Homo sapiens: one gene and its partners. The protein of the gene in region 1 purifies or fractionates together with the protein of each later gene. This does not show direct contact. Each region holds a gene or a part of one and is shown in the gene's direction. Other genes may lie near its edges.

Region 1 (7,619 bases):
ACATGTCCTCTTTGTGTTTCCAGAGCCCAGGGCCCAGCATGCGGTAGCTACCTAGTATATGTTTACTGAATGGAGGGATGAATAAATTCATGCACAAAGAATAGTTTTATTTATTTATTTATTTTTGAGACAGAGTCTTGCTTCTGACACCCAGGCTGTAGCGCAGTGGTGCGATCTTGGCTCATTGCAACCTCTGCCTCCCAGGTTCAAGCAATTCTCCTGTCTCAGCCTCCCAAGTAGCTGGGATTACAGGCATGCGCGCCACCACGCCCGGCTAATTTTCTATTTTTAGTAGAGACGAGGTTTCAACATGTTGGCCAGGCTGGTCTCGAACTCGCGACCTCAGGTGATCTGCCTGCCTTGGTCTTCCAAAGTGCTGGGATTACAGGTATGAGCCACCGCGCCTGGCCTTATTTGTTTATTTTCATAAACAAATTTCTGTTGCCCAGGCTGGTCTCAAACTCCTGGCCTCAAGTGATCCTCCTGCCTCAGCCTCCCAAACTGTTGGGATTACAGGCACAAGCCACAGTGCCTGGCCCAGTTCTGTCCTTTGAGTTGACCTGGTCATCCAGGAGGATGTTCTGAGGAAGTGTGAAATGATAATATTATTCTAGCCCACGCTGGATACAGTGGCAGTCTGGAAGGTGAAAGAGGTTGGGTTTGAAATAGATTTATTGGCCAAGTGCAGTGGCTCACACCTGTAATCCCAGCACTTTGGGAGGCCGAGGCAGGAGAATTGCTTCAGCCTTTAAACATGGCGAAACCCTGTCCCTATTAAAAATAAAAAAGTTCGATGGGCGTGGTGGCATTCACCTGTAGTCCCAGCTACTCAGGAGGGTGAGGCAGGAGAATCACTTCAGCCCTATAGGTTGAGGCTGCTTTGTGCTGTGATCATGCCAATGCACGCTAGCCTGGGTGACACAGTGAGACCCTGTTTCAAAAACAAAAACAAAAACAGAATAGAGGCCTGGAGCTTGAGAGGGAACTCAGGATAGAAGATATAGATTTAAGAGTCGGCTGGATGCAGTGGCTCAAGGCTGTAATCCCAGCACTTTGGGAGGCTAGGGTGGGTGTATCACTTGAGGTCAGGAGTTCGAGACCAGCCTGAACAACATGGCGAAACCCCATCTCTACCAAAAATAACAAAAACTAGCTGGGCATGGTGGCATGCGCCTGTAATCCCAGCTACTTGGGAGGCTAAGGCAGGAGAATCACTTGAACCCGGGAGGTGGAGGTTGCAGTTAGCCGAGATTGTACCACTGGATTCCAGCCTGGGTGACAGAGTGAGACTCCCTCTCAAAAAATAAAAATAAAAATAAATAAATAAATAAATAAATAAATAGTGATACAGATAGATAGATACATAAATTATATCATTCACTGGGTAGATTGAGAAGAGAGCTGTAGAGAGAATCTGAGTGTAATAGTCAGGGCAGGCTAACTGCTGTAAGAAACAGTGCCCCCACATCTCAGCGGTATAACTCAAAAGAAGTTTTTTCCTTCTTATGACAGTCAATTCCTGACATCTGGAGCATGACCTTTCACAACATTATTCCGGGACCCAGTCTCCTTCCATCTAGTGGCTCTGTCATCCTCCTAGGGCCTTGGAGTGGTCTGCTTTTGACCAGCTAATGGGAGGGGAGAGGCAGAATAGGATCCTGTGAAGACTTCTAGGGTCAGGTCTGGAAATATCTTTTGCTCACACTCCATTGGCCAGAACAAGACTGCCTCAGTGCAGAGGAAGCTGGGAAATGTAGTTTAGTAGGGTACCCAGAAGGAAAAGGGAAACAGTCTCTGCCACACTGAAGCAACACCAAAATCTGAGGGTTGGATGTAGGAAGAAGCACCTGCAAAAGATAGAAAAGAGCCTTTAAGAGGATCACCTGAAGCCAGGAGTTTGAGACCAGCCTGGGCAGCATAGCAAGATCCTATCTGTACAAAAAATAAAAATAAAAAATTAGCCTAGGGTGGAGGCATGCACATACAGTCCCAGCAACTCAGGAGGCTTGGGGCCAGGAGTTTGAGGCTGCAGTGAGCTTTGATTGGGCCACTGCACTCCACTTAAGCCTGAGTGACAGAGCAAAACCCTGTATCCAAAAAAAAAAAAATTAACCAGGAGAAAAATGACATTTGGAGATCCTGTCTCTAAAGAAAAAAAAAGCTCACTGCATAGCTCACTGCAGCCTCAGAAACAGGCCCAGGACTGAATCAAGGCCAGCAAGGTGCTGGGGTGATAAGCGAGCCCGACTCCAGCCTGGCCAACACGGTGAAACCCCTTCTCTACTAAAAATACACAAATTAGCTGGGCATGGTGGCAGACGCCTGTGGTTCCAGCTACTCAGGAGGCTGAGGTAGGAGGATCACTTGAGCCTGGGGCGTGGAGGTTGTAGTGGGCCAAGATTGTGCCACTGCACTCCAGCCTGGGTGACAGAGCAAGACCCTGTCTCAAAAAAAAAAAAAAAAAAAAAAGTGAGCTGGAGGATGAGGCCTCCCTAAATTTTGTGCCTTGGGTGTCTCGATCCGTCACGCCAGCCCCAGTCCCGGCAGTCAGGTGCGGCAGAGAAAGCAAAGGGAGAAGGCTGGGAAGATGCAAGTGAATTTAGCGACTAGCAGTCCCTGTGAGCAACTGTAGCAAGAAGGGTTTCCAATGAAGAAAGGAAGGCCCTGGGCCAGGCGCGGTGGCTCATGCCTGTAATCCCAGCTCTTTGGGAGGCAGAGGCGGGTGGATCACCTGAGGTCGGGAGCTCAAGACTAGCCTGACCAACATAGAGAAACCCCGTCTCTACTGAAAAAAAATACAAAATTAGCCGGGTGTGGTGGCGCATGCCTGTAATCCCAGCTATTCGGGAGGCTGAGGCAGGAGAATCGCTTGACCCCGGGAAGCGGAGGTTGCAGTGAGTCGAGATCACGCCATTGCGCTCCAGCCTCGGCAACAAGAGCGAAACTCCATCAAAAAAAAAAAAAAAAGGAAGAAAGAAAGGCCCTGGCAGTTCTTGGACAGGAACTTGCCTGAAGTCCCAGTCCCGGTGACTGGTGGTTTCCCCACTTTCTGGTTCAGAAGCTGGGCTCTAAGCTGTCTGTGCCCTTAAAGTTCCTTGGAAAGAGGGAAGGGAAGGGAAGTGGATATTAGGTGAGTTCCTACTCTGTTTCATTTGCAGAGTTTTCTCATTGATTCTCAGTTGGACCCATGAGGTAGATGTTATGCCATTACATTTTTTTTTTCTTTAGAGACAGGGTCTCTCTCTGTCACTCAGGCTGGACTGCAGTGGCACGATCACGGCTCACTGCAGCTTTGAACTCCTGGGCTCAAGTGATCCTCCCATCTCAGCCTACAGGTGTGCACCACTGTACTTAGCTAATTTCTTTTTCTTTTTTCTTTTTTTGGGAGAGATGGGATCTCTGTATGTCTCTATGATGCCCACACTGGTCTCAAACTCCTGGCCTCAAGCGATTCTCCTGCCTTGGCCTCCCAAAGCACAGGGATTACAGGCATGAGTCGCTGTGCCCAGCCTGTTATGCCGGGTTTTTTTGTTTTGTTTTGTTTTTTGAGACAGAGTCTCGCTCTGTCGCCCAGGAGTACAGTGGCATGATCTTGGCTCACTGCAAGCTCCACCTCCCGGGTTCACACCATTCTCCTGCCTCAGCCTCCCGAGTAGCTGGGACTACAGGCGCCCACCACCACACCCGGCTAATTTTTTGGTTTTTTAGTAGAGACGGGGTTTCACCATGTTAGCTGGGATGGTCTCGATCTCCTGACCTCGTGATCTGCCTGCCTCAGCCTCCCAAAGTGCTGGGATTACAGTCGTGAACCACTGCATCCGGCCTGTTATGCCGTTTTTTAAATTAATTAATAAATTTATTTATTTATCTTGAGACAGAGTCTCACTCTGTCACCCAGGCTGGAGTGCAGTGGCATGATCTCGACTCACTGCAACCTCCACCTCCGGGGTTCAAGTGAGTCTCATGCCTCAGCCTCCTGAGCAGCTGGGATTACAGGCGGCCGCCACCATGCCCGGCTAATTTTTGTATTTTTAGTAGAGATGGGGTTTCGCCATGTTGGCCAGGCTGGTCTCAAACTCCTGACCTCAGGTGATCAACCTGCCTCTGCCTCCCAAAGTGCTGGGATTACAGGCGTGAGCTCCTGTGCCCGGCCCTGTTATGCCATTTTAAAGCTAAGGAAACTGAGGCACAGAAAAAGGTAAAAAGGTACTTGAGATCAAAAAGGATGGAGTTAGGATTTGAACCCAGGTCCAGGGCCCATGATTTTCCCAGCACACCATCCAAAATGCCTGCCTGCCCTCACCAGGGAGCACATGCTTACATTCACAGCCTTGGACCCTGGGTTAGGGCCAGGAGGGCTGGGTGTTGGGTGAGAACAGGGCCTCGGGCTCCTTCACTGGCTGGGGCAGGGCTTCTGAGTTCCCCATCAGAGCCCCTCCTCTGACTTTCAGGGCCTGCTGAGGAATCTGCAGGCCTGGCAGAGGACAGGAGGGAGGCTTGGGGAGCCTGGGAAGGGCCGGCTGACAGCTTGATGGGCCCTCCCTCCCTCCACAGTCCCACCCCCAGCCTGGGGCCTCTGGGAGCCTTGGTCCTGAGCAGCCAACACACCAGCCCAGACAGCTGCAAGTCACCATGGACGCTGAAGGTAAAGGGACACTCTCTCTGCCATGTCCCTGCACCCATCCCCCCACTGCCTACCCCTGCCCCCACCCTGGCTTGTCTCAGCCCCTTGTTGCCTCCTCTGGAGTCATCTCTCCTCTGGTCCCGCCATCGACTCCCTTACCTACCCCATGTCCCTGCAGCCTTGCTCAACCCCCAGAGGCCCCTTCTCACTCTTCTTTCTCCTGTGTTGAGTCCCCAAGGAGCTCTGGGGAAGGAAGGGGCTTAAGCCCTAGAAAAGGGCAGGGTGGCCTGGAGGAGGTGGCGTCTCCTGGGGGCAGTGGGGGCCGGAAGTGGGAGGCTGGTTGGGGGAGCAGCATGGACTTCTGCTCTCGCTGGTAGCTCGGGAGAAGCAGAGACAAAGTCCTGTCCCTTCTGCAGCTGGGTGGGGGAGGGGGCTTGAGTCCCGTGATTCCCTGCCTGGAGGGAGCTGTATGCAAACTGTTGGGGTGATCAGTCCCAACCCCCAACCATGAAGTCCGGTGGCAACAAAGGAATGAGAAAAGACAAGTTAAGATTTAAAGCAGCCCCAGGGGGCCAGTTGCTAAAGTGAAGGCTGCAGAGCCCTGGTTGCCTGATAATTTATTGAGTACAATCTTTTGATCTAAGAAGCAGATGGTACGGGGTGAAACGGTGAAGGTGGGGGTGTGCGCGTCATTTGAAAGATGTATAGCCGTGGTGGTTTATGTGAATTTCCTTTAAGCTCAAAGCATATGTCTAACTACTAAGATAATCTTTTTTTTTTTTTTTTTTGAGACGGAGTCTCGCTTTCCCCCAGGCTGGAGTGCAGTGGCGTGATCTCGGCTCACTGCAAGCTCCGCCTCCCGGGTTCATGCCATTCTCCTGCCTCAGCCTCCCGAGTAGCTGGGACTACAGGCGCCCGCCGCCACGCCTGGCTAATTTTTTGTATTTTTAGTAGAGACGGGGTTTCACCATGTTAGCCAGGATGGTCTCATTTCCCAACCTCGTGATCCGCCCGTCTCTGCCTCCCAAAGTGCTGGGATTACAGGTGTTAGCCACCGTGCCCGGCCAACTAAGATAATCTTTAACTTATTGGGCTGCAGCTGGTGGGAGTGGGTTTTACAAGGAGCCAGGATGTCTGGTCACATTCCAACGCTTCAAGGAAGTGTTTCAGCCCAGAGCATTCTGTGTAAAGCCGCAGAGCAGGTCATGTTCACTGGCCTGGGGACACAATGGCAATAAGGAGGTGATTCTCCTCAGAGGCCCCCTATGGTGTTCCATAGGTGTCCTACACAGGGGTGGCTGACTAAACTGGCGCCCCGTAAACCCTTCCACCAGCACAAACCCAGGGGTCCATGCTCTACGCTCAGAAGGCTCCACCAGGGATGGGGCTGTGTGACCATGGGTGGGTCCTGGCTTCTCAGAGTCCCGTTTTCTTCCATCTGTAAAATGACAATAATAGTTCCCTGCTCTGGCCCGCCACGGTGGCTCACGCCTGTAATCCCAGCACTTTGGGAGGCTGAGGTGGGTGGAGCACTTGAGGTCAGGTGTTTGAGACCAGCCTGGCCAACATGGTGAAACCCCGTCTCTACTAAAAGTACAAAAATTAGCCGAGTGTGGTGGTGCGCACCTGTAATCCCAGCTACATGGGAGGCTGAGGCAGGAGAATTGCTTGAACCCCAGTGGCGGAGGTTGCAGTGAGCTGAGACCAGGCCTCAGCACTCCAGCCTGGGCGACAGAGCGAGACTCCATCTCAAAAAAAAAGGAAAATAAATAGTTCCCTGCTCAGAAGGTTGTGGGGAGGACAGAGGATGGGAGGCACAGGTGCTTAGACCCTCCTCCATGTTTGAGGTGCCTGCTGGCCCCATACACCCGGTCCCTCTGGCTCCACTGTGGAACCAGCTCTCAGGGGTCCCATGCAGGATGCCACGCCAAACACCTTTCAATCTCCATTGTGTCTTTCTCTTTTGAAACAACGCCGACCTGGATGTGAATCCTGACTGCCACTCAGCAGCAGTGGAAACCCTGGCAAGTTTTGTAACCTGTAGAAGCCCGTTTCCACATCTGGACAATGGAGTTGGTGGCACTGGTCTCACGGGGTTGTAATGAAGATTAAATACCTTAGCAGATGTCAAGGGGTCTCGACCTGATTCCTTCAGAGCCAGGATTCTTTACTGAGGGATCAGGGATGGGCTCTGGGGGAGTTCATGAACCCCAGAATTTGCAGGTGAAATTGTGTGTCTTTGTGAGAACACGGTTACGCATTTTTCTGGGAAGGAGATCCATAATTTTCATCAGATCCAGATTCTTTTTTTTTTTTTTTTTTTTTGAGACAGAGTCTCGCCCTGTTGTCCAGGCTGGAGTGCAGTGGCATGATCTTGGCTCGCTGCAACCTCTGCCTCCCGGGTTCAAGCGATTCTCCTGCCTCAGCCTCACGAGTAGCTGGGACTACAGGCATAAACCACCATGCCCGGCTAATTTTTGTATTTTTAGTAGAGATGGGGTGTCACCATGTTGGCCAGGCTAGCAGATCCAGATTCTTTTTTTTTTTTTTTCGAGATGGAGTCTGACTCTGTCACCAGGCTGGAGTGCAGTGGCAGGATCTCGGCTCACTGCAACCTTCACCTCCCAGGTTCAAGTGATTATCTTGCCTCAGCCTCACGAGTAGCTGGGACTACACGTGCTTCAGGCACTTGCTGCCATGTCCAGCTAATTTTGTAGTTTTAGTAGAGACAGGGTTTCACCATGTTGGCCAGGATGGTCTCGATCTCTTGACCTTGTGATCTGCCTCCTCGGCCTCCCAAAGTGCTGGGATTACAGGTGTGAGCCACCGCACCCGGCCTCTTTTGTTTTTTAGACGGGGTCTTGTTCTGTCACCCAGGCTGGTTGGTGTGCAGTAACATAATCATAGCTCACTGTTTGTAGCCTCCAACTTCTGGGCTCAAGTGGTCCTCCTGCCTCAGCCTGTGGAGTAGCTGGGACTGCAGGCGTGTGCCACC
Region 2 (7,021 bases), on another chromosome or scaffold:
TCAAGTAGGCCTTGGGTACAAGGATATGAAAAATAAGCTTTAAAAATTTATTTGGATATATAGTTTCTATATTCTAAGTGTACATATGGGTTTATAGACATATATATATTCACACATATATGAATATGTATACATATATATTTTTTAAGCTCTTATCTAAAGTGGTTTTTAAGTGATGTGAAGTTTAACCTCAGCATCAAAGTATATTCTAAAATATAAAACAACTATTTTTTATCATTCTACATTTTTTATTTACATCAACTGTATCACCCATTACATATTTGATAAAGAGGTTATGCCTCAGTAATTCTGAAGCTGAAGGCTTAAAATCTCAGCCCAGTGACTCTGGAGAATCACGTGTTAGTTAAAGGGAAAGCGGCGGCCTCACATGCTGCGTAAGTTTCATTCTCAGGCATCCTTTCTGAGGGACCTACTTTTACTGGAGATCATTCTGCTAAATAAGGTAACATCTAGCCTCAATGGCAGTCATGTTAGTTAACCCCCTAAACCTTCAAAAATATGTTTAAAATTATGTTAAGCTAAATAAAGAAAAAAGGAAAAAAAACTTAAGAATTCTGTCTGTAATAATTTCTCTATATTGCAAATAATAACCTAGGTATGCATAAATAAAGTAAATTATTGTTCCAAGAAATCTTTATTGAGAACTGAGAAAAGATTTTGTACAATAACCCTAGTATTGCAAATATTGTAAATATTTTTACAAATACAGAGATATAAATAAGAAAGGGAAGAGATACAGTTGGCCCGCCTAGGGCTAAAAGTGTTACCTGTCCAGATTATGTAATCCACGGAGTAGGCTTCAGGTGTTCAGAAACGGCAACTCTTGATATTTTAGTGTCAGGTAAAAGCAGGTACATAGAAACCCAAGAACTAGAGTATCAATATAAAACACATGAGCATATAAATACATGGGCATAAAAATAAATGTATATGTTTATCCATAAATCCCAAAGCTTTGGTTGACCCTTAGTTTATCTAAAAAAAAAAAACAAAAAAAAACAAAAAACACACGAGCTTATAGCCCACACCACTGGTTCCCGTGACTGGAAATCTACCTTATATTTTTCAGCAAGCACCGTGTGGTTGCTCATCCTCCAGATGCTGTAGCATTTTAACGAAGACACCCTTTAGCCATTCTTGTTTTGACAAGGAAAAGTAGGAGTCCATTTAATGTTTTGGGCTCTATAATATCACATGTAAAAATTTTAATTCACTATGATCATTCCATGAGCTAGAACCCTTTTATTTTTAAAAATAACATGAGGTGTCACTGGAATTTTGCCTTCTGGGATTCAACGCTTATATCCAAAAAGGGCTTTGTTCTTTTTTGTTTTTGTTTTTAAGTGTATAAAAGGGGGAGTTTGGGCCTTTTATTTAAAGTAAAAGTAAATTCCTAACTAAGAAAATGTATAGTTTGTGCCTGAACTAGTAGCCTTCATTCCTAATTGTTGTGTGATAGCAGTAGTTTTTAATCTCTTCTCTTCTTGTATTTGTTAGCTCATTACTTTTTTCTCACCTTCTTCCCTCTCCCTCTGCCCACCCATGCCCCACCTCCACATGCTGCTTCTGGGTACTAGAAGTCCAGCTCCTCCACCACTACTGGGGAGAAGATCACGAAGGTGTACGAGCTGGGGAATGAGCCAGAGAGAAAGCTCTGGGTCGACCGATACCTCACCTTCATGGAAGAGAGAGGCTCTCCTGTCTCAAGTCTGCCTGCCGTGGGCAAGAAGCCCCTGGACCTGTTCCGACTCTACGTCTGCGTCAAAGAGATCGGGGGTTTGGCCCAGGTAAGAATGAGTGAGGGAGGGGGTGAAAAAGGAAGCATTGTGGATAAGTTCTTACAGTGGCTTTCTTTGAATGTGTGGACTCATTTTTTTTCTCACAAAGGAAAAGCTAAGCCTGTGTGAAAGTCGCCTTCTTGCAACCCACGTCTGTGTGCTGTCAGGGAGCACTGGGGGACCCTGGCTCTGCCACCAACTCGCAGCGTGACCTCAGCAGGTCATGTTCTTGGACCTCAGTTTCGTCATGTATACAGCGGGCCAGACTAGATTTTCCTGTAGGTTTTCTTACAGCTCCAGAATTCTCTGGAATCTGCCAGTAGTTCATAGTAAATACTCAGAAATGTTTTACAAATGACTGAATTAATTATCTGTGTCAGATATAAGTCACATTTACTGCTTCCCTCTATCCAGAACAGGTTAGCAGGAAAATTAAGTGATACTTGTCAAACCATGCCCACAATAACTGGACAGTTAGGAGGGCCATTGCTGTGACCTCCAGCGGGCTAGGCCTGAGGTGTGACAGGGGAGCTGCCTGGGGTGCAGATTTAAGGAGCTATCCACTGTGTGCTTGCTTGACTCTCAGAGTGAGTGCGTCCTGAAGTCTCATACCCCAGGCACCGGCTTTCCTCACTGTAGCCCTCGCTCCTTAATCAGGAGTCTAGTTGTAGGACCACGCCCTGTCATAGGAACAGGGAAAAGGTACTCACTGTGTAACCTTTGTCTTTCTAAATACATGAGTCACCAGCCCCAAAGCATAGATGAGAAAACTCCTGTGTAACAAAATCAAGTACAGGATGGGGTGCAGTGGCTTACACCTGTAATCCCAGCACTTTGGGAAGCCAAGGCAGGAGGATCACTTGAGGCCAGGAGTTGCAGACTAGCCTGGGGACCCCAGTAAGACTTTGTCTCCATTAAAAACTACAAAACTTAGCCGGGCGTGGTGATGCACACCTACAGTCCCAGCTGTTCAGGAGGCTGAGGTGGGAGGATCACTTGAGCCCAGGAGTTCAAGGTTACAGTAAGCTTTGATCACACTACTATACTCCAGCCTGGTTGACAGAGCAAGACCCTGTCTCAATAAAAAATAATATATTTTTTAAAAAATAGAATAATGCTGTAGCCCAGGGACACTCACAGGGTAGTTGGTGGGGCCAGGTCTGTCTGACTCCAGACACATACTCTTCCCATTTGCCACTGGTTCTGGAGTCCAGCTATGCATTAGAATGGCCTGGGCAGCTTTTCAAAGCTGTCAGTACCTGGGCTACCACCCGACATCAATGAAATGAAACCTTCTGTGCCCAAGGTAATCTAACAGGCAGTCAGAATCAGGCGCCCTGCGCCCCACCAAGGTGGCGGGGGTCACTAACTATCCAAGGGCAAGTCATCTGCCCTGCAGGTGTCACTGACGGCCTACCGTGGTCTCAGTGCTGCGTCTCGGGGGAGAAAGGGGAGGCCTTCTTTGTGCTTAGCCTTCCCACTAGGTGCCTAATCCATTCCATGGGGGAACTGAGACCTGTGACAGAAAGAATTAGAGCTTGCCCATGACGCTGCATAACCAGCTGCTAAGTCGTGTGATACCACGTGTGAGTGATGGTCAGCAAAGAGAATGATTGAGACACGCCTCTCTCTGACCTGGACTCCCTGACCTTTCCCCTCTGCACCTGGGCTCCTTTGCCTTCTGCCCCTGGACTCCCCTGACCTTTCTCCCCTGCACCTAGCCTCTTCTGACATGGATTTTTTAGAATCACCAAGACTGCTCAAACGATTAGATTTTATCAGCCAGCACAGAGTAGATAGTGTCTGGCTACTTCCTTACTGTGACTGTGTCCACAGTATATATAACCAGGCTGGGTCTGTCATGAGACTCTCCGCGGGCTTATAATGAGGGTTGCTGGAATGTAGCTGGGTTGCATCTTTGTCCCCACCCCATCATGCTGTGTACCTTGTGGGCATCAGATGTGGTTGGGAGCAGGTGCTGCCACCACACAAAGCTCAGCTCCCAGCCTTCCTTCTTAGGTCACACTGAGCAGCGCCCAGCTTGCCATTTCTGAAGTAACCTGAAGACCCACAGTTTGCAGCCCTGCATTCAGTGCCAAAAGAGGGCGGTGGGCATCTCCGGGAGCATCCACAATTTATTATACACCACCGAGTACTAAGTAAATGGACAGAAGAGCCGTGTGAGAAAGTTTGAACCCAGAAATTTAATATTTCATTAAAAACCACTGTCCCCTTACCTCCTCCCTTGCCACACAACGCAGGAGACATCAAAAGGCAAAACCTTCCCCAAGTTATTTGCAAATCCTCATGTTTCATCCATGTGTTTAACCGTTTAACCTTTCATAACCTGTTCCCAAGTGGGAATCAAAAGGTTAAAATAATGCCTCGGATCTTGACGTCACATTTCAGGAGTTCTCTTTCTTTCTCCTCCTTTTGCGACTGTGTTGTCTCCAGCCCTTTAAGCCTCCTTGAGTAAGAGCACCGCACAGGAAGGTGTGCACCTGCCCCGTCAGCAGGGCTGGTGGCCAGTGGCATCGCATCATGCTTTTTAAGTTGGGGGCCGTTGGTCCAGGGGCTCATTTGCCTTTGCACGAGGTGCTGCTTTTGCTTTTGCCTGACACCCCAAGCAGTCTTGGGGTGAGGGGATGGGTACGGCCCAGAATCACAGGCCCACTTCTGAGGGCTTGCAGCTGCTGGAATGAGCACTTTCACATCAGTGCCCAAAAACCTAACTTGGAAAATAGTGCCGTTGTTGCTTTTTAAATGTTTTGAGATGCCCTTTTTCCTTAATTGGAGGTGCAGTGGGATGAGCGTGAGGCGTTGGGAGATGTGGCGGGCAGAAGGACCTCCGAGCAGTGCTTTTTCTGTTGCCATCAGCAGGTTCCCTAATGGTTTTATAACTGTAAATGCTGCCTATGCACTGCTGAGTGGGAGTAATGAGCATTAGTTAAAAGAGGCAAATGAAGAAAAGTCAACCAAGACATTAAGTGCTTTTTTTGTCTCCTGGCTTTAAACAAGCCACTTTGTTGCAAACCAATGATCCTGCCGTGTTTTTCACTAGGTTAATAAAAACAAGAAGTGGCGTGAGCTGGCAACCAACCTAAACGTTGGCACCTCAAGCAGTGCAGCGAGCTCCCTGAAAAAGCAGTATATTCAGTACCTGTTTGCCTTTGAGTGCAAGATCGAACGTGGGGAGGAGCCCCCGCCGGAAGTCTTCAGCACCGGGGACACCAAAAAGCAGCCCAAGCTCCAGCCGCCATCTCCTGGTAAGTGGCGGCGCTGCAGTCACTGGCCCAGGAAAGCCCAGGCGCCTGGCCTGGGAGGTTCCGGGAAGGTGGTTTCACAGTCAGGCCAACAGGGAACTTGGGACTTTTGAGAGGTGGGGGGTTCCTGTGTCGTTTTGTTTATTTAATTGGACGCCCACTGGCAGTGTTAAGGGATGAGAGAATTAAATCTGGGATATGGCCATTTCTGGTTGACACTTGGAAGGCACCCCTTCTTTTGCTTTACCTTAATCAAAACAGGCTTTCGAATTCTAAGCCATATACGTTTATTGCTTATACAAGTATTCAAAAAGATTCCATCTACCTCTACACAAAATAAAGATCCCCCAGTGGCCAGTTTGAATACATGTGCACTTCTAGGAAATGCCACCCTACAGGTTCGACAGCTCGAGCTCCCCCGCCCTCTTTCGGAAATCCTCAGATTTGAACTTTAGTAAAATGAAGCCTGGGCTTCGTTTCTAATGTCCCCTACCCAGCAAGTTCTCACTTCTAGGGAATTTAACAAGCTGTCGTGGTAAGGATCCACACGGCCTTGTTTTGGAAACAGGTGGTCTTTTGCAGCCTTGTTCTGGAAGTCAGGGGTCTTAGGAATGGGTGCAGCGCTGGCCACCAACACGCTCGCAGGCCGAGCCACATCAGTGACGCCTGCTGGCTCCCTTCCCTCTCCTCCCCACTGACAGAGACCCTCCCATTCCTTTCAGCTCCCCTGCCAGCCTTCGTTCTACCGTTTGGCTTTCAGATTTGAAATGACAAAATCATATATTCTGATAAATGCAATAGTAGAGAGGGGAAGAAATTGGCACCTTAGTGCTGGGTGGTGACCTTACTCCAGTAGATCCGACCATTCTCTTATCTGTGTCTGCCTCGCAGTCAGCGACCTTCAGCACATTAGCCTCACTGTTCCTGGTCCCTGTCTATGAGATGTGGCTGCACCCACCGCTCCTGTACACAGCTTGTTCTGAGCGTGGCTGGCAGCCCATGTTTCCTGAGCACTTCCAGTGTGCTGGGCCCTTTTCTAAGTGCTATCATTTCATTTTCACATCAGCCCTGTGACATTGATACTATTTTAAAATCCATGAGAAAATGAAGGTCTCGTGGAATCTAAGTACTTGCCCAAAGCCAACTAGCTGGGGAGTAGAAGGTCTTATCTGGGGCATCTGGTGCTACAGTATACACGATACCCACCAGACACCTCTGGCTGTATTGAAAATACCTTTGTAATATGTGAAATGTTTACACATAGAAGCCAGAGAAAGAGGTCATTTCATTTTTAATGATTTCCTCTAGCTGCTGTCTGGATGGCAAAGCTGATATCCAAGGTTGCTAATCAAGGGATCTCACATAAATACGTTTTAGGCCCAAAGTGCACTTGTAGTGAATATACCTAGAATTACATCTGTAGGCTCTAAAAACAAGTAGAAATCCTCGCTAACCTCATCCTTAAAGATTCAAAGGCTTTACCAACTCAGGTGTCCCTTAAAAACTGGGAAATCTAATTTTAAAAATCTCACAACATTACATCCAGTTCACAGAGTAAAACAAGCTGCCTGTGAACAGCTCTGAAACTATTTTTCCAAAATAAAAACCCAGTGGGGCGTAGGGACCAAAGTGGTGATGTCTGTAAAGATCTAAGGGTACATTTTATTTGCCAGGAAAGAACTCGTGTCACTGAATGGGCTGCACTTGTGTATGGAGAATAGCTCTCCCAGTGTGCATCAGCTTCAGGACGGGGGCCCTGCTGAGGCGTATAGATCCTTCAGAAAGTGGAGGGCCTGTTCTCTTAACAGCCAGCCGTTCCCTTTTCCCCTTTTTTAAACTGTCATTTTTATGGCAACATTATCATTTTAACTACACAAAAGAGCTTGGATTGCAAATGGACTCCTGGTATACATTCTTCTCAGTAGTCCAGATGGAGCCGAGGGCCTGTGACACAGGAGG
Region 3 (7,021 bases), on another chromosome or scaffold:
TCGCACCCCACAGGCCGCACCCCACAGACTGAGGCTGCCTGGGGTCTTGGCAGCTCCCTCAGCAATGAGGGATACTTGCTCTCCGCTGCCTCATTGTTTCCCTGCAGTCAGGATGCCAGTGTTTTTTCCCTTTCCCCTTCCCAGAGTCAACAGGTCTCCCTCCCCGCTCTGAACTCTCTTCCTACTCTGAGCTGTCTGTCCAAACTCTTCCTGGCCTCCCAGCTTACCCTATGACACTCTTACCTTTCACCTATATTCATTCTTTCCCTTCTCTTCCAACTGCCCCTTCTCATACCCAGCACTACATACAAATTACAAGTAAATAAGTGTCTCTCCTACACCAATAAAAGGCAAATACAAAAAAATCCTTCAGCGTTTCCCCACTTTCCTTACTTCTCTTCCGTTCTCCTTCCTTCCTTTCTCTCCCTTCCTCTTCCTCTCTTGGTTTTTCCTTTCTACCCCTTCCTCTCCTTCACTCCGTGGCTGTGGCTGAATTAGGGATCACACATGTGCTTAGAGAAACCATCTTATCTGAAGAAACAAAAAAACAAAAACCAAAACAATGACAACGACAGAAAAAAAAAAAAAACATGGGCTGGTTTGAGGTTGTTCTCTAAATGTTTATTATAACTTCTAATGTGATGGAGTCAGTGTGTTCCCATTAGTCCTTCTCCTCCTCATTTAGTAGCTCAGAGGAGTCCCAGAGCAAACTTCCTCAAATCAGGTCGGTTCATACTGCACTGCCTTCAGCCTGATGTGAGTCTTACTGTGCTGGGTTTATGTCCAAGGGCCAGTAAATATTCCCTTCCTTCCAGGGCTCACCACTGTTTCAAATCCTCTGGCAAGCCCAGTGGAAGAACTTCTCTGTATGGGAAATTCAGCAAGTAAACTTGGAAGTATTTGTTCATTGGAGTTTGAATCTGAGCCAAACAGTTCACTCAAAACCAACCTTCCACTCAGCAAACCAGTGTTATGAAAGTTTGCATGCATTTGGGCAGGAAACAAAGGACATTAATGAGTTTAAAGATTTTTTTTTAAATCCATGACTTTTGGACATTTATTAAAAAGATTACTCTCTGGGGAATGAAGTAAGGCCTTGGGAATCTTGTAATTGAAAGTTTCTGATCCGAAGTAGATCTCAGGATCCTCCCAGCTGTAAATTTATAGATTTCTTTTTAATGTCCACCTGAAATATTCATGCTGTGTGTCTCTAGGACGCTTCAAACCTATTCCTGACTCAAAGAAAGCTTAAGAAAAAATCCAAGCAGTTGTGATCACCAAGGCCTGATTATGGAGGAGCTGTTAATATGGTTTATTAATTACTCAGGCTGCTCACTCCTGTCCTTCCTCTGTTCCTTGCTGTGCTATTTGTCTTCTTCTGGGGACATAACACCTTCATTAAATCCCATCCGTCCTTGCCTTAGAGTTGTCCCCTGGAAGATAGCTCCCCTCTAGATGCATCACCATTTATCATCACCCTTTGTTGGTGCTCTGTCAACCAGTTTTCAATTTATTTTGAATTCAGTTAATGATTAAAATTTAATGAGATCCAGTCAAATGCTTTTCTCAAATCAAGATGCCTCTGCAGCCTCATCTGTATCCTCTTGTGATGGCGTGAAGGAAAGCCATGGCAGATTTCCAGCCTGGTGATGCTGTACAGAACACAGGTGGCCTGCTTCCATGCCTCCTCAGCTTCAAGGTGAATGGCTCTGAAGCATATTTATTACAGAATCTCCTAGGGGTTATGTGGCTTCCCCATCCCCTTTCTTCCCTCCCAATAGCTGAACCAGTCAGTGCTCCCAACCGAGATGCAAGCGGTTAAGTGCACAGGATCTGGTGCCAAACCGCTTATATTTGAATCACAGCTCTGCTACTTAATAGCCATGTGACCTCGGAAAAGTTACTTACCTTCTCTATGCCTTGCTTTTCCTGTCTGTAAAATGAGTCTGACAATAGTACTTAGGAAATTAGAGTGGGTGTGAGGATTAAGTAAGTTAATATATCTATCACACTTGGAACAGCATTTCCCACGTAGTCACCATTCAATAAATATTAACAATGATTGCTAACAAAGAGTAAAGTTCCTTAAGTATGTCAGTTTCATTAGGTTTGTATTTTGGCTTATCAGTGTACAATCTATATCAACAGTAAACTACAACCCTAGAGCCAATGGTTACCATGACCTGTTTTTAGCACCAGCCTGTTGCTCAGAATGGTTTTTATATGTTTAAAGGGTGTCTTTTCTTAAAAAAAATAAAAATAAAAAAGGAGCAGAATATGAAACAGACACAGCATGTGGCCCATAAGGCTTAAACTATTTACTATCTGTCCCCTTTGCAGAAAAAGTTTGCCAACCCGTGATTTATATGGTTTAATGGAAAGAGCTTGGAGATCTAAAGGCTTGATTTGGCTTCACCCATCACTTGTTAAGTGACTATGGAAAAGCTTCTCAATGTGTCTAAGCCTCTGTAAAACAGGAATGGCAAAGTGGTAACACGTACCCTGCTTATGGCCTAGGCTTGTTTTAAGGACCAAACGAGATGATGTGTATCAAATGTGCCGGAAATGACTCATATATACACGTTTGTTAAAAAGATATGGTCTCTATACATTAGCTTCATAGAATAGTATTAGCACCTGGGTGTAAAACCAGGGAATACTGTTTTTAAAAAGAGAGCTCTGAAGCCAGATAATAACTGCAGTTGTCGTTGCGGTAAAAATAACAAAATGGCCATTGCTTTTTAAGAGCTTGATATGTGCCAGGCTCTACATTCAACACTTTATTTACATCTACTCTTTATCCTCACCACACCCCTATGGAGAAGTGTTGCTATTTTCCCTATTTTGCAGATGAGAAAAGTGAGGCCCAGAGACGTTAGGTAACTTTGTCAAGATCACAAATCTAATCATGCAGCTAGCCGGCACAGGGAGAATTTAACCCTAGGGAGTCTGAACCCAGAGCCTGTGCATTTAAGTATTGCATATGTTCCCACATCCTAGGAATATGTGTTGATTTAGGGTAAGCCCATCTGGAAGGCAGAAGCCACTGTTCACTGTGGATGTGGGCATGAAGTCTGTTCATGTGTGCCCTGGGAGAGACTTGCTTCCCACACAGGCCACGGTGGACTCTAACGGACCTGAAGAAAGGGAGGCAGGCATGATGGGAGGAAAAGCTTTTTGGTGAACTCTGAGATCAGAAAGGTAGCGCTGTGAAGACTAATAGGCTCTGTTTCAAAAAACTAGTAAGTTAAGGAAGATTGTGCTAAAAGAGGAAAAGATTGCTGGGAACAGACATGAGCAAACAGTTGGAGGCAGCTCAAGGGGCTTGACTGAGAGCTGTGTACAGAAAAAAAAATTAAAAAAGAGAGAGGGTGAAGCATGGGAAAATCTGTCACTGGGACACCAAGGGAGCATTGTCACATGGACAGCAAGGGAGCATTGTCACATGGACATCAGGGCTGCTGACATCTGGATGTGACATTATTCGCAAAACTAGGCAGCTCGGGGCAGAGTAGAGAAGCCCAGAGAAAGGTATCAGGCCCGAGGAGGCAAAAAGGAAGACAAAGCAAGGGACCTGGAGAGAGAAACTGACATATTTGAGGGAAGATGCCCATCAGATCCAAGAGCTAGAACCACAGCTCACAGTCCAAACGGTGATGAGAGTCCAGAGATTAAAAGCTACTGTCAGGCTGGGTGCAGTGGCTCATGCCTGTAATCTCAGCACTTTGGAAGGACGAGGCAGAAGGATTGCCTGAGCCCAGGAGTTCGAGACCAGCCTAGGCAACATGGCGAGACTCTGTCGCTACAAAAAAAAAAAAAAAAAAAAAATTAACCAGGTGTGGTGGTGCATGCCTGTGGTCCCAACAATATGGGAGGCTAAGGTGGGAGGAAGACCTGATCCCAGGAGGGCAAGGTAGTTGTATGTCCCTGGGAATCACCTCTGTACCCAGCTCATGCCCACCCATGCTTACCCCAGGCACATGTTCTCACCCTCTGCTGAAAGGTTTTTGATATTTGAAGAGATATGTTCACTGTCTCCTGGGCGGTGTCATGAGTTCCTCATTCGCATTGGTTCTTAATCTTTGTGAGCATCAGAATCACTAGTGGAGCCTTTCCTTTTCATTTTTTATCTTTTAAGTCAAAATAGATGCACTTGTTACAAAACTTAAATAGTATAAAATGTTCTGAAAAGCAAACCTCTTTCCTACCCCATTCCTAGCCATCCAATTCCCTTCCCAGAGGCAACCACTGTTCCTCATTTGAGATGGCAGATATACGACCTTATATCATACAAATGATGGCATACCCTACACACTGTGCTACTCTTGAATTTTTTTAACTTAATAAATCTTAGAGATAGTTCCATTTCAGTTCACACAGCCCTTCCTCATTCTTAAAGGATGTGGAGTGCTCATTGTACAGATATACTACAGTTTTAAAAATCAGAACCTTTAGACATGTGGGTTGTGTCTGGTCTTCGCTATTATAAACACTGCGGCGTTGCCTGTCTTCGTAGCCTCTTCATTTCATACAAGATATACATATCTCTGCAGGGGAAATTCTTAGAAGTGAAATTACTAGGTCAAAGGGCATAAGCTTTTAAAATTCTGATAGTTATTGCCAAATTGCACAGATCACATTTCCCTTGGCAAAGTATGAGAGAACCTGTTTACCTGTGAGACTTAAACAAAAATACACTAGTATTTTACATACAATAAACAAAAATACTCAGAGGCCCTGGGTGTGGGGCCTGGGCTCTGTATTGGGAGCCTCAGAGAGGGGTTCTGAGCCAGGAACTCTCCTGGGCTTCTTCGCCCTCCAGCCCCGCTCTCCCCCCAGGATTTGCTGATGAGCCTGAGATGACCCAGGGCACTGCCAGCATGGGGGCTCCCAGGGTCCTAGTTGGCAGGTCTCCTGTTCCCCTGAGGAGTCAGTGCTTGCTCCCTGGGTCATGGCTGGAAAACAGGGCTTTTCCACTTCAATCCAGGCACCGCCCTCTGGTAGAGACTGGAGCAAAGGTCATGCCAGAGTTACAAGCACGTAAATATGGAGAAAGCCTGGAAAAAAAAAGGAAAAACAGAAAAATGGGTCGGGTCAGAACAAGCAAGAACCAGGCTCACATGCACAGCTGTTCCATCCAGTTATATGTCCCCAGGACTCACCTCTGTCCCCAGTTCATGCCCACTCGTGCTTACCCAGGGTACATGCTCTCACCCTCTGCTGAATGGTTTTCTTTGTATTTTAAAAATACAATGGTGAGATACTGAGTGATTGCTTTTTAATGTTTAGTATTTTTACACTATGGACATTAAAGACAAAACAGATAAAACTGCCATCCTTGACATAACCCATTAATCTGTCTGTGGCCCCCTGATGTGGCATTTGTAATTGTTCTCTATGACTGCCTCAGGAGAGTTGGCAGGGTTGCCCACTTTCTGCCAGTTCAGACAGGGGTCTGGGGCTGGAGGGGGCCTGTGTGGTAGTGGCAGGCGTGCCCCACCCTTTTCAGTTCTAGGTGGAGCTCTGCAGAGGCACAAAGACCAGCAACTCCCTGCCTGGAATCTAAGAGCAGATGCTCCCATTACACTGGCTGATGGCATCACCTTTATTCTGCAAGTAAGGGTTGTGGTCAATCCTGCCCATGGGCAGGACCTTTGGGCATGGCCCAGACCTAACTTGGGTGCTTGACACATAGTGGGCACTTAATAAATGTTCTGGAGAGGAAAAAAAAAGAAGAGGGAAGGGTCACCCACGTGGCATAATTTTAAGAACTCTGAGGACCAGGCCCACCAGATACTCCTTGCTACCCAACATTGTTGTTGACAACATTCTCATTGTCACTGATCCGGCTACATGGACCTGTCTGTCCCCTCTCTGAAATAGGCATCAACTATTTATTCATTCAGTGAATCTTTATTGAGCACCTACTATGTGCCAGGTGCAGTTCTAGGTGTTGAGAATATAGCTGTAAACAGAACAGTCAAAAATCATGCCCCCAGGCCAGGCGTGGTGGCTCACTTATAATCCCAGCACTTTGGGAGGCTGAGGTGGGAGGACTGCTTGAGGTAAAGAGTTCAATACCAGTTTGGGTAGCATAGTGAGACCTCATCTCTACAAAAAAATTTTAAAAGTCAGGCACACCGACTGGCGCAGTGGCTCACACCTGTAATCCCAGCACTTTGGGAGGCCGAAGCGGGCGGATCACCTGAGGTCAGGAGTTTGAGACCAGTCTGGCCAACGTGGTGAAACTCTGTCTCTACTAAAAATACAAAAATTAGCCAGACGCAGTGGCGCACACCTGTAATCACAGCTACTCGGGAGGCTGAGGCATGAGAATCGCTTGAACCCGGGAGGCAGAGGTTGCAGTGAGCCGAGATTGTGCCACTGCACTCCAACCTGGGTGACAGAGCAAGACTCCGTCTCAGAAAAAACAGAAAAATTAGGCATGATGGCGTGCGCCTGTAGTCCTAGCTACTTGGGAGACTGAGGTGGGAGGATCACTTGAGCCCAGGAGTTTGAGGCTGCAGTGAACCATGATCTAGGTACTGCTCTCCAGCCTGGGTGACAGAGCAAGACCCCCGTATCACAAAGAAAAAGAAAAGAGAAAATTGCACCCTTAGGAAGTTTATATTCTGGGAGAAGGGAGAGGCAATGAGCAAATAAGAGATTATTAGATATTTGTGTATATCATATACATTTGGGTAATATATAAGACAGTAATAACTGCTGGATAAGAAGGTAAAGCAGGGAAGGGAGATGGGAATGAGAGGAGAGTGTAAACATTTTAGGGAGTGCGACCAGGGAGACCTCCCTGAGGTGACAGCCAAGGAAAGACCTGAAGGAGAAAGGAAGCCAGCCATGCAGCTGTGTGGGGGAAGGGTGTTCCATGAAGAGGGAGCGACAAGCACGAAGGCCCTGGGACGCCGGTCGTGGGTTTTCTGCATGTTACTTAGTTTCCTCTCTTAGGCTGGATCACAGCAACTTGAAGGTAGGAAGAATGTTTTCTGTGTCTTCAGAAATT
Region 4 (7,868 bases), on another chromosome or scaffold:
ATTTATTGACTCACTTCTAATAAATAGAGTATGGCAGAAGTGATAAGACCATTTCTGAGATTAGGTTACAAAAAGACTGTGGCTTCTTTCCATGGGTGCTTTCTCTCACATACTCTTGGTTCTCTTGCTCTCTTTCTTGGTCACTCACGTTGCGGAACGTCAGTGGCCATGTTGTGAGGAAGCCCTGGGGAGAGGGCTGCCTATGTAGGGAGAGATCAAGGCCTTCTAACAACCACATGAGTGAACTTGGAAGTGGATCTCCCCCCATTCAAGCCCTCAGATGGGATTGGCAGCTGACAGCTTGACTGCAATCTTGTGGGAGATCTTAAATCAGAAACACTCACCTATGCCATGCCAACATGCCTGTCCCACAGAAACTGTGATCTAGTAAATGTTTATCATTTTTACTTTAAGCTGCTAAATGCTGGGGTAATTTGATATGCAGCAATAGATAACTAATACATTTTCCATCTTCCCTCTATCTTTTCTCCGAGCTTCCAGAGTTATTTGGGTTTACCTCTAGTAGTGCTCATAGCACAATATACTATTTTTATTTCTAAGTTGCTCTCCCCTACTGGACTGTCTCCAAGGCCAGGAACCCTAGCTCAGTCAACTTCACATTTATTGTGTCTTTTTTTTTTTTAGATGGAGTTTCGCTCTTTTTGCCTAGGCTGGAGTGCAATGGCACGATCTTGGCTCACTGCAACTTCCACCTCCTGGGTTCAAGTGATTCTCCTGCCTCAGTCTCCTAAGTTGCTGGGATTACAGGCACGCACCACCATGACTGGCTAATTTTGTATTTTTAGTAGAGATGGGGTTTCACCATGTTGGCCAGGCTGGTCTTGAACTCCTGACCTCAGGTGATCCACCCGCTTCGGCCTCCCAAAGTGTTAGGATTACAGGCGTGAGCCACACACTTATTGTGTCTTATCCAAGGTTCAAGCCACCATCATCACTTCCCTACACAGTTGCAATAAACTCCAGACTGGGCTACCCAAATCCCCTAGACCCTTCTAATTCTTTCTCCTCCTAGCTTTATGAAATCTTTCAAAAATGCAACTCTGATCACTTGAAGGCTTAAAATCTTTCTCTTCATTCTTAAGATAAAGACCTAAATTCTTAATACAGCCTCCCAGGCCTGGCATTATCTTCCTGTCTCACTATAGTACCTAACATGCTTCTGGCCAGGCACAGTGGCTTACACCTATAATCCTAGCACTTTGGGAGGCTAGGTGGGAGGATTGCTTGAGGCCAGGAGTTTGGGACTAGCCTGGGCTACATAGTGACACCCCGTGTCTAGAAAAAAATTTTTTTTTGAATAAAGATACTTCCTTCTTCTTCTCAGTATAACAACAACACTGGCCTCTCAGTTCCTCAGCTGAGCCATGCTCCTTTCTCAGAGCCTTTGCACACACTGTTCCCTCTGCTGGGTATGCTTTCCCCCATCCTCAATTTCTATTTATCCTTTGGATCTCAGCTCAGTGTCACTTTTTCAGGGAAGGCCTTCCTGCCTTCTATTCTAAATCAAAGAACACTGTAGTTTTCCTTCAAACTGCTTACATAATCAGGATTAAATAATTGGGCCCGGTGGCTCATGCCTGTAATCCCAGCACTTTGGGAAGTTGAGATGGGAGGATCGCTTGAGGCCAAGAGTTCCAGACCAGCCTGGTCAATATGGTGAAACTCTGTCTCTACTAAAAGTGCAAAAAATTAGCCAGGTGTGGTGGTGTGCACCTGTAATCCCAGCTACTCTGGAGGTTTGAACCCAGGAGATGGAGGTTGTAGTGAGCAGAGATTGCGCCACTGCACTCTAGCCTAGGCAACAGAGTGAGAGTCTGTCTCAAAAAAACATAAATAAATAAATAAATAGGTAGGTAGTTTGGTATAGTACCCAGCAGAGTCCTTCTACTCAGGTGGGGATATAACATTGAGAAAGGAAATAAAAACCTAACTATTATACTTCTTAACAGCATTTCGTAGATGTTAAAATCTTGGCCCGCTGGCGGAACTGTGAGGTTAAAAAAGCATGGGTTGTGCAGTCAGACCCAGTTTTGGATCCCAGCTCTGCTCTTTAGTAGCTGTGTGACATTGGGCAAGTTACTCTCCTCTCTGTTCCTCAAATTTCTCAGCTATAAAATTAGGATATAATAATTATATCTTTCAGGAAGGTTGTTGGAGGAAGTCAATGAGATAATACTCATAAAACACTAAGAACAGGGCTTGGCCTTAGCAAATGCTAATCATTGTTATCCACTATATTTTATCTGTGGTTAAAAAAAAAAGATTGCCCATTTCTCATGTGGTACTGGAAGAAGCTGGGGAATATTTGTGGTACTGGGAAGTTGTCTGTGGGAAGTTAGGATTGAAACAGTGAAAAATGTAAGGCCTCTGCCTGTAATCCCAGCACTTTGGGAGGCCTAGGCAGGCAGATCACTTGAGGTCGGGAGTTCGAGACCAGCCTGACCAACACGGAGAAACTCTGTCTCTACTAAAAATACAAAAATTAGCTGGGTGTGGTGGCACATGACTGTAATCCCAGCTACTCAGGAGGCTGAGGCAGAAGAATCCCTTGAACCAAGAGAGGCGGAGGTTGTGGTGAGCCGAGAGCACACCATTGCACTCCAGCCTGGGCAACAAGTATGAGACTCTGTCTCAAAAAAAAAAAAAAAAAAAGTGAAGCCAGTGGAAGAAAGGAAACAGGAGAAATGGTTGCCAGCTATGTTCTAGTTGGTTCCAAATGACAGCAGCACCAGTTTGTACTGTCTCCCAGAAGTCTGTGTTCCTACTGTTTACACATGCATCTTCACAAGCCATTGCTGACAGATGAGATATGCTGAGAGAGGGTTACCTGTTCAGATTCTTGACACCTGGCAACTTGTGAAAGCTAATTTTTTTGGAATCTGGAAAACTATCAAACTCCTTTTCTTTCTCTTCACCTTATTGGGAACCTTTTGGTTGATCAGAGCCTACCATGTATCAGTCATTCAAAAGCTATAATAAAATAATGAATTCAGAACTGCAACAAGGAAGTGACTCAAGGACCAGGGCCCTCTGCTGCTGAGACTCAGGGGAAATACGTTTCATTAAAAAAAAAAATTAGAAGAAAAAATCCAGTCTGTCTCGCTGGATCAAAAAAAAAGAAAGGAAGAAAGAGAGAGAGGGAGAGAGGAATAAAGAAAGAGAAAGAAAAAGAAAGAAAGAAAAAGAAAGAAAGAAAGAAAGAAAGAAAGAAAGAAAGAAAACAAAAGAAAAAAAAAAGACAGACAAATAGTTACTCTTTCCTGAAGACTCAGTGTTCTCCCAAGGCCTCTTCCTTCTTTCCTGAAGGCACACTCAGATCTGGAGCAGAAGCTAGGAAGCTACCCTGAGATAAATCACTTTCCCCACCCTTTTTAATCTTGTGAAAGAGCTGCTGCCAATTTTAGAAATTCCTCCTTTGATCAGAAGATAAAGCAGAACAATGCTGCGGAACTAAGTTGATTTCTAAGGGACATTCTTCTAGAGTGTGTAGCCTGCCTGGAAGTGTGTGTGCATAGAGGAGGGGCGGGGTTGGGGGAAAGATAGGAGTTGGAAGGGGGGGGGGTGTACAACAGCCAGTAGCTACAGCCGTAAGAAATAATCACATTTGTTTCTAGAATTCCCCATAGAATAGAAACTCCATCCAATTTTACCATCCCTGCGGAGGTGCAGGCATGTTTATTACAGCGCTATGAGGGATTCATCCACTCCACATTCCCCATTGCCCTAGCCCCCTTTCGCCAACCCCCGTCCCTGCCAAATCAGGCCAATTTCTTTCTTTCCAGTTATTTGCTGAAAGTTCAACTTCTCTTAGAGCCTTCTAATTATGCGTATATCATATAGGCTGATAATTTTTAGTTTAGGCTGAGAAATGCAGCCTAAATCAGTCTGCCACATCAGATTGTGAACGTCTGGATGGTGTGGACCCCCTTCTCCTACTGCTTAAAAGACAATCTTGTTGTAAAACGCTATGGAATCGTTCCTCTCCCCTTAACATCTTTGTGCCCCAGAAGCCCCATCTGTAAATGGGGATAATTTTCCTATATCTTCCCATGGTTACGTAATTTTTAGATCTAACACGTGAGGACCAAACGCTTTACAAGCATAATCTCATTAAATTCTCAATAAGAATATATTATTATGGAGGTTGCATGTGAAAATACTTTGTAATGTAGAAAGAGCCGTCTGGCTGTGAGTTATTATCAGGGGGTTATCTTCCTTACCTGGCTGTTGTGAGGATGAAACGAGACGCCGACCTGAAAGCGTTTTACGTGCTATCAAGCATTTTACAGAAACCACGTGATAGGCTACTAATTACCCACCGTATACCACCTGACCCACCGTGAGGCCTCGGTAAATACTGGTTGGAGTGGACGAGTTTAAGTCTTGCCTGTTCCTTTCAGTCTTCCAATCACAAAGTAATCTCGGCGCCGCCAGGGGCCAAGACACAAATCTGGGAACCTCAGCCTAGATGGAGGAGGGTGCGGGGTCCCGGGAGAGGGGATGAGAACAATAGGGTACTTCAGTGCCCGGGCCCTGTTTAGCGGGTCTTCGGACTCAGGGCCCGAGGGGCGGCCAGCTGGGGTGTCCGGAGAGCTCCCCTCCCCAGGTCTGGGGTGTGCACGGAGAGGCGTCCAGAGCCTGCTCAGCATTCCTCGGGAGAGAGCCAGACCCTGGTCCCCCGGGCCCGTGCGCCCCAGCGCCCCAGCTCCCTTGCTCACGCCACCCCGGCAGCGTCCAAGCCCCGCCCGCCAGCTCAGGTAGGCCGTCCGCGCCAGCCAATTCGCAACAAGTCCGGGCGGGGAAGGCGGTGCTTCCCTGTCCGGAAGTGACGTGCTGCGCTTGGCTGGCTGTGGAGTCGGCCGAAGCTTTCGGCGGCGGCTGAGCCAGCTGAGGGGAAAAATGGCTCGGACTGTGGCGGCTTCGGCGGCTCAGGTTGTGGTAGAGGCGGAGGCTCAGGCAGCTTGAGGTGAGGAGCGGTCGGTGCGGCTGGGGACGATATTCGGGGTCCTGCTCTGCAAGGGTGGAGAGGGGCCCCGGGGTTCCCGGGCTGGAAGGGTCTCTTGTCGCGGCCCCCAGTGCCTTGGGTGCCCGCGTCTGACCCTCCATCCCGTGCTCTTGGCGTTGCCCAGCCCGACTCCCCCCTCCCTCCGGGCCTTGCTTCCACCCAGGCCGTGAGCAAGTGCTGCGCTGGAGGTGCGAGGAGCCCGCGTCCCCACCAGGCCCCTCTTCTCGGGAGCGGAGGTGCGCCAGGGAGTTAGTTTTGTCCCACAGAAGGAGGGCAGGCCCCCCGGCCGCCGGCCCCCCTCCCCCGCCTTGTCCCGCGGGACCGGGCTGGAGCCGCAGTGGCCGGTCCTATTTTCTTGGCAGATTGTTAGTTCTGGCGAGTGTGTGTGTTGTACTTCTCAGTGACGGCCCCTTCTTTCACCTCCTGTCCCATCTCTGGCTCTGGGGGCCAAGGATACTTTTTCTTCTTCCCGGACCCCCCACTCCCACCGCGTTGCCTTTAGCCGCGAATCCACTTGCTTTGGGAACACTATTCTTTCAGTGTGTATTTAGCGCATCATCCTTCTGAGAGAGCGGTCAGATTAAAAAATACTAGCTTAACTCTTCCTGAGTGACGGAGGAATCATAAATAATTGAAGAAAAAGGCACATACTTATTTTCCTCACTGAATTTCTGGCTTTAAAAACGACATTCTCTAGCTGTGGAATTATTTTTTGGGGGAGGAGGGATTGAGGAGGGAAATGAGGAAGGAGAAACTAAGGAAAAAAGTCTGGACATAACGTGGAAGAGAGAGCCTGTTGTAGTTCTTTTCCTATACTGGCCCGATAGAAATTGAGGTTATAATTATATTCTTATTTTGAACAGTGGGGGTTTGAATTAAGTGAAACGAAGGAGGCCTGCCTCTTTGAACAAGATTAGTTATTAAAGAATGTCCTGAAATCTTTCCTGGTGGGTTTCAGGCAGAAAAGCTCTGTTGGGAAAATTTTTAAATCTATTGTAGCATCAAAGGCCACAGCATATAAGAGATGCAAGAAGAAGAAAGCTGTTTGTAGGGGAACGGTGAAGACATAGTAGAAAGAGGGAAGGCTGCACAGAAGTCCAGGAACTAATTCCAGGAGAGACTTTGTACCTTTGCCTCCTTGGCTTGTGGTTCAAGTCTCCACAAGAGACTCCTTTAGCAGCTCTGCCATAGTTGGGGTTGGTGCTCTTTTTTTTTTTTTTAATTGACATGGGGTCTCACTGTGTCGCCCAGGCTGGTCTACCATGCCCAGCAGAATGGTGCTTTTTTTTTTTTTAAATTTGATCTAACCTTATCTGGACAGGATGGTGCTCTTATTCACAGCAGCAAATTAGACGAAAGGACCCTAGTTGAAGTATACAGATTTTATTTTTATATAAGATATTTGTTTAGTATCAAGACAGTGGTTACATACTGAAAAACAATGTAACTGGGAATAGAGAGATTTTATTTGTTAACTCAGATTTAGTTCAAAAGTGATTTTACGTAGGTAGAAAGCACATATGGAGTTTCTTCCATAAATTCCGTAATTTTGGCTGAATTAATACATTCTAAAGTAGGTTTTTTCTTATCAAAGTGTCTTGCTATTTGTGTTTTATATGCGTGTTTCCTGCAGTTTTCTTTGCAAATAACATGTTTTAATGTTTTCATCACAGGTTTTACAATTTTTTTCTGTTTGAATCTCGCTCTGTCGCCTAGGCTGGAGTGCAGTGGCACGAGAGCTCACTGCAACCTCCACCTCCAGGGTTCAAGTGATTCTCCTGCCTCAGCCTCCTGAGTAGCTGGAATTACAGGCACGCGCCACCACACATGGCTCATTTTTGTGTTTTTTCAATAGAGACTGGTTTACACTATGTTGACCAGGCTAGTCTCGAACTCCTGACCTCAAGTGATCTGCCCGTCTTGGCCTCCCAAAGTGCTGGGATTAAAGACTTGAGCCACTGCACCTGGCAGTTTTTTCTGTTTTATAGAATACAAAAGCTGGCATGTTTGCATTGAGGAATTTTAGAAACTAACTTTTTGTAATGAATAACTGTATACTAAGTTTGTTTCTTCTGCAATTAATAGTTCTAAAATTTTCAATTAATTGAAGATTGCTTGCATTAATTCCCATGTCCAGGACTCTTTCTGTAGCACAAAGTTTTGCATTTAAGTAAGCACATTCAATAAGTGAACTTATACCTAAAGAGTGTTGAATTTCCTGAGAACTCAGAGTTCTTATAGAGCATCAGAGCAGCAGTAGTGCAAAGCATTTTTTGTAACTTGTTTTTCTTTGATAACATGAATTATTCTTTTTTTTTTTTTTTTTTTTTTTTTTGAGATGGAGTCTCACTCTGTTGACGAGGCTGGAGTGCAGTGGCACGATCTTGGCTCACTGCAACCTCCACCTGCCGGGTTCAAGTGACTCTCCTGCCTCAGCCTCCCGAGGAGCTGGGACTACAGGCGTGTGCCGCTATGCCCAGCTAATTTTTGTATTTTTAGTAGAGACGGGGTTTCACCATGTTGGTTGGCCAGGATGGTCTTGAGCTCTTGGCCTTGTGATCTGCCCACCTCGGCCTCCCAAAGTGCTGGGATTACAGGCTTGAGCTACCCTGCCCGGCTCTTTTTTTCTTTTTTGAGACAGTCTCACTCCGTCACCCAGGCTGGAGTGCAGTGGCGTGATCTCAGCTCACTGAAACTTTTGCCTTCTGGGTTCAAGCAATCCTCCTGCCTCAGCCTCCCAAGTAGCTGGGATTACAGGTGCACACCACCACACCCACCTAAGTTTTGTATTTTGGTAGAGACGGGGTTTCACCATGTTGGTCAAGCTGGTCTTGAACTCCTG

What was found.
Region 2: the proteins of QPRT (region 1) and ARID1B purify together in Homo sapiens (affinity purification with mass spectrometry; 4 studies listed by BioGRID and IntAct, with this or other methods). This does not show direct contact.
Region 3: the proteins of QPRT (region 1) and TRAF3IP2 purify together in Homo sapiens (affinity purification with mass spectrometry; 4 studies listed by BioGRID and IntAct, with this or other methods). This does not show direct contact.
Region 4: the proteins of QPRT (region 1) and PIK3C2A purify together in Homo sapiens (affinity purification with mass spectrometry; 4 studies listed by BioGRID and IntAct, with this or other methods). This does not show direct contact.

What each region holds. Positions count from the first base shown.
Region 1 is NC_000016.10:29,674,566-29,682,184, forward strand, and holds the start of QPRT (nicotinate-nucleotide pyrophosphorylase [carboxylating]), read left to right. Parts: upstream 1-4,632; coding exon 4,633-4,645; intron 4,646-7,619. UniProt on the Homo sapiens protein: Involved in the catabolism of quinolinic acid (QA).
Region 2 is NC_000006.12:157,179,371-157,186,391, forward strand, and holds part of ARID1B (AT-rich interactive domain-containing protein 1B), read left to right. Parts: intron 1-1,598; coding exon 1,599-1,808; intron 1,809-4,860; coding exon 4,861-5,065; intron 5,066-7,021. UniProt on the Homo sapiens protein: Involved in transcriptional activation and repression of select genes by chromatin remodeling (alteration of DNA-nucleosome topology).
Region 3 is NC_000006.12:111,595,874-111,602,894, reverse strand, and holds part of TRAF3IP2 (E3 ubiquitin ligase TRAF3IP2), read left to right. Parts: intron 1-599; exon of another isoform or gene 600-1,680; coding exon of another isoform or gene 1,681-1,699; exon of another isoform or gene 1,700-5,057; intron 5,058-7,021. UniProt on the Homo sapiens protein: E3 ubiquitin ligase that catalyzes 'Lys-63'-linked polyubiquitination of target protein, enhancing protein-protein interaction and cell signaling. Transfers ubiquitin from E2 ubiquitin-conjugating enzyme UBE2V1-UBE2N to substrate protein.
Region 4 is NC_000011.10:17,204,967-17,212,834, reverse strand, and holds the start of PIK3C2A (phosphatidylinositol 4-phosphate 3-kinase C2 domain-containing subunit alpha), read left to right. Parts: upstream 1-4,848; 5' UTR 4,849-4,987; intron 4,988-7,868.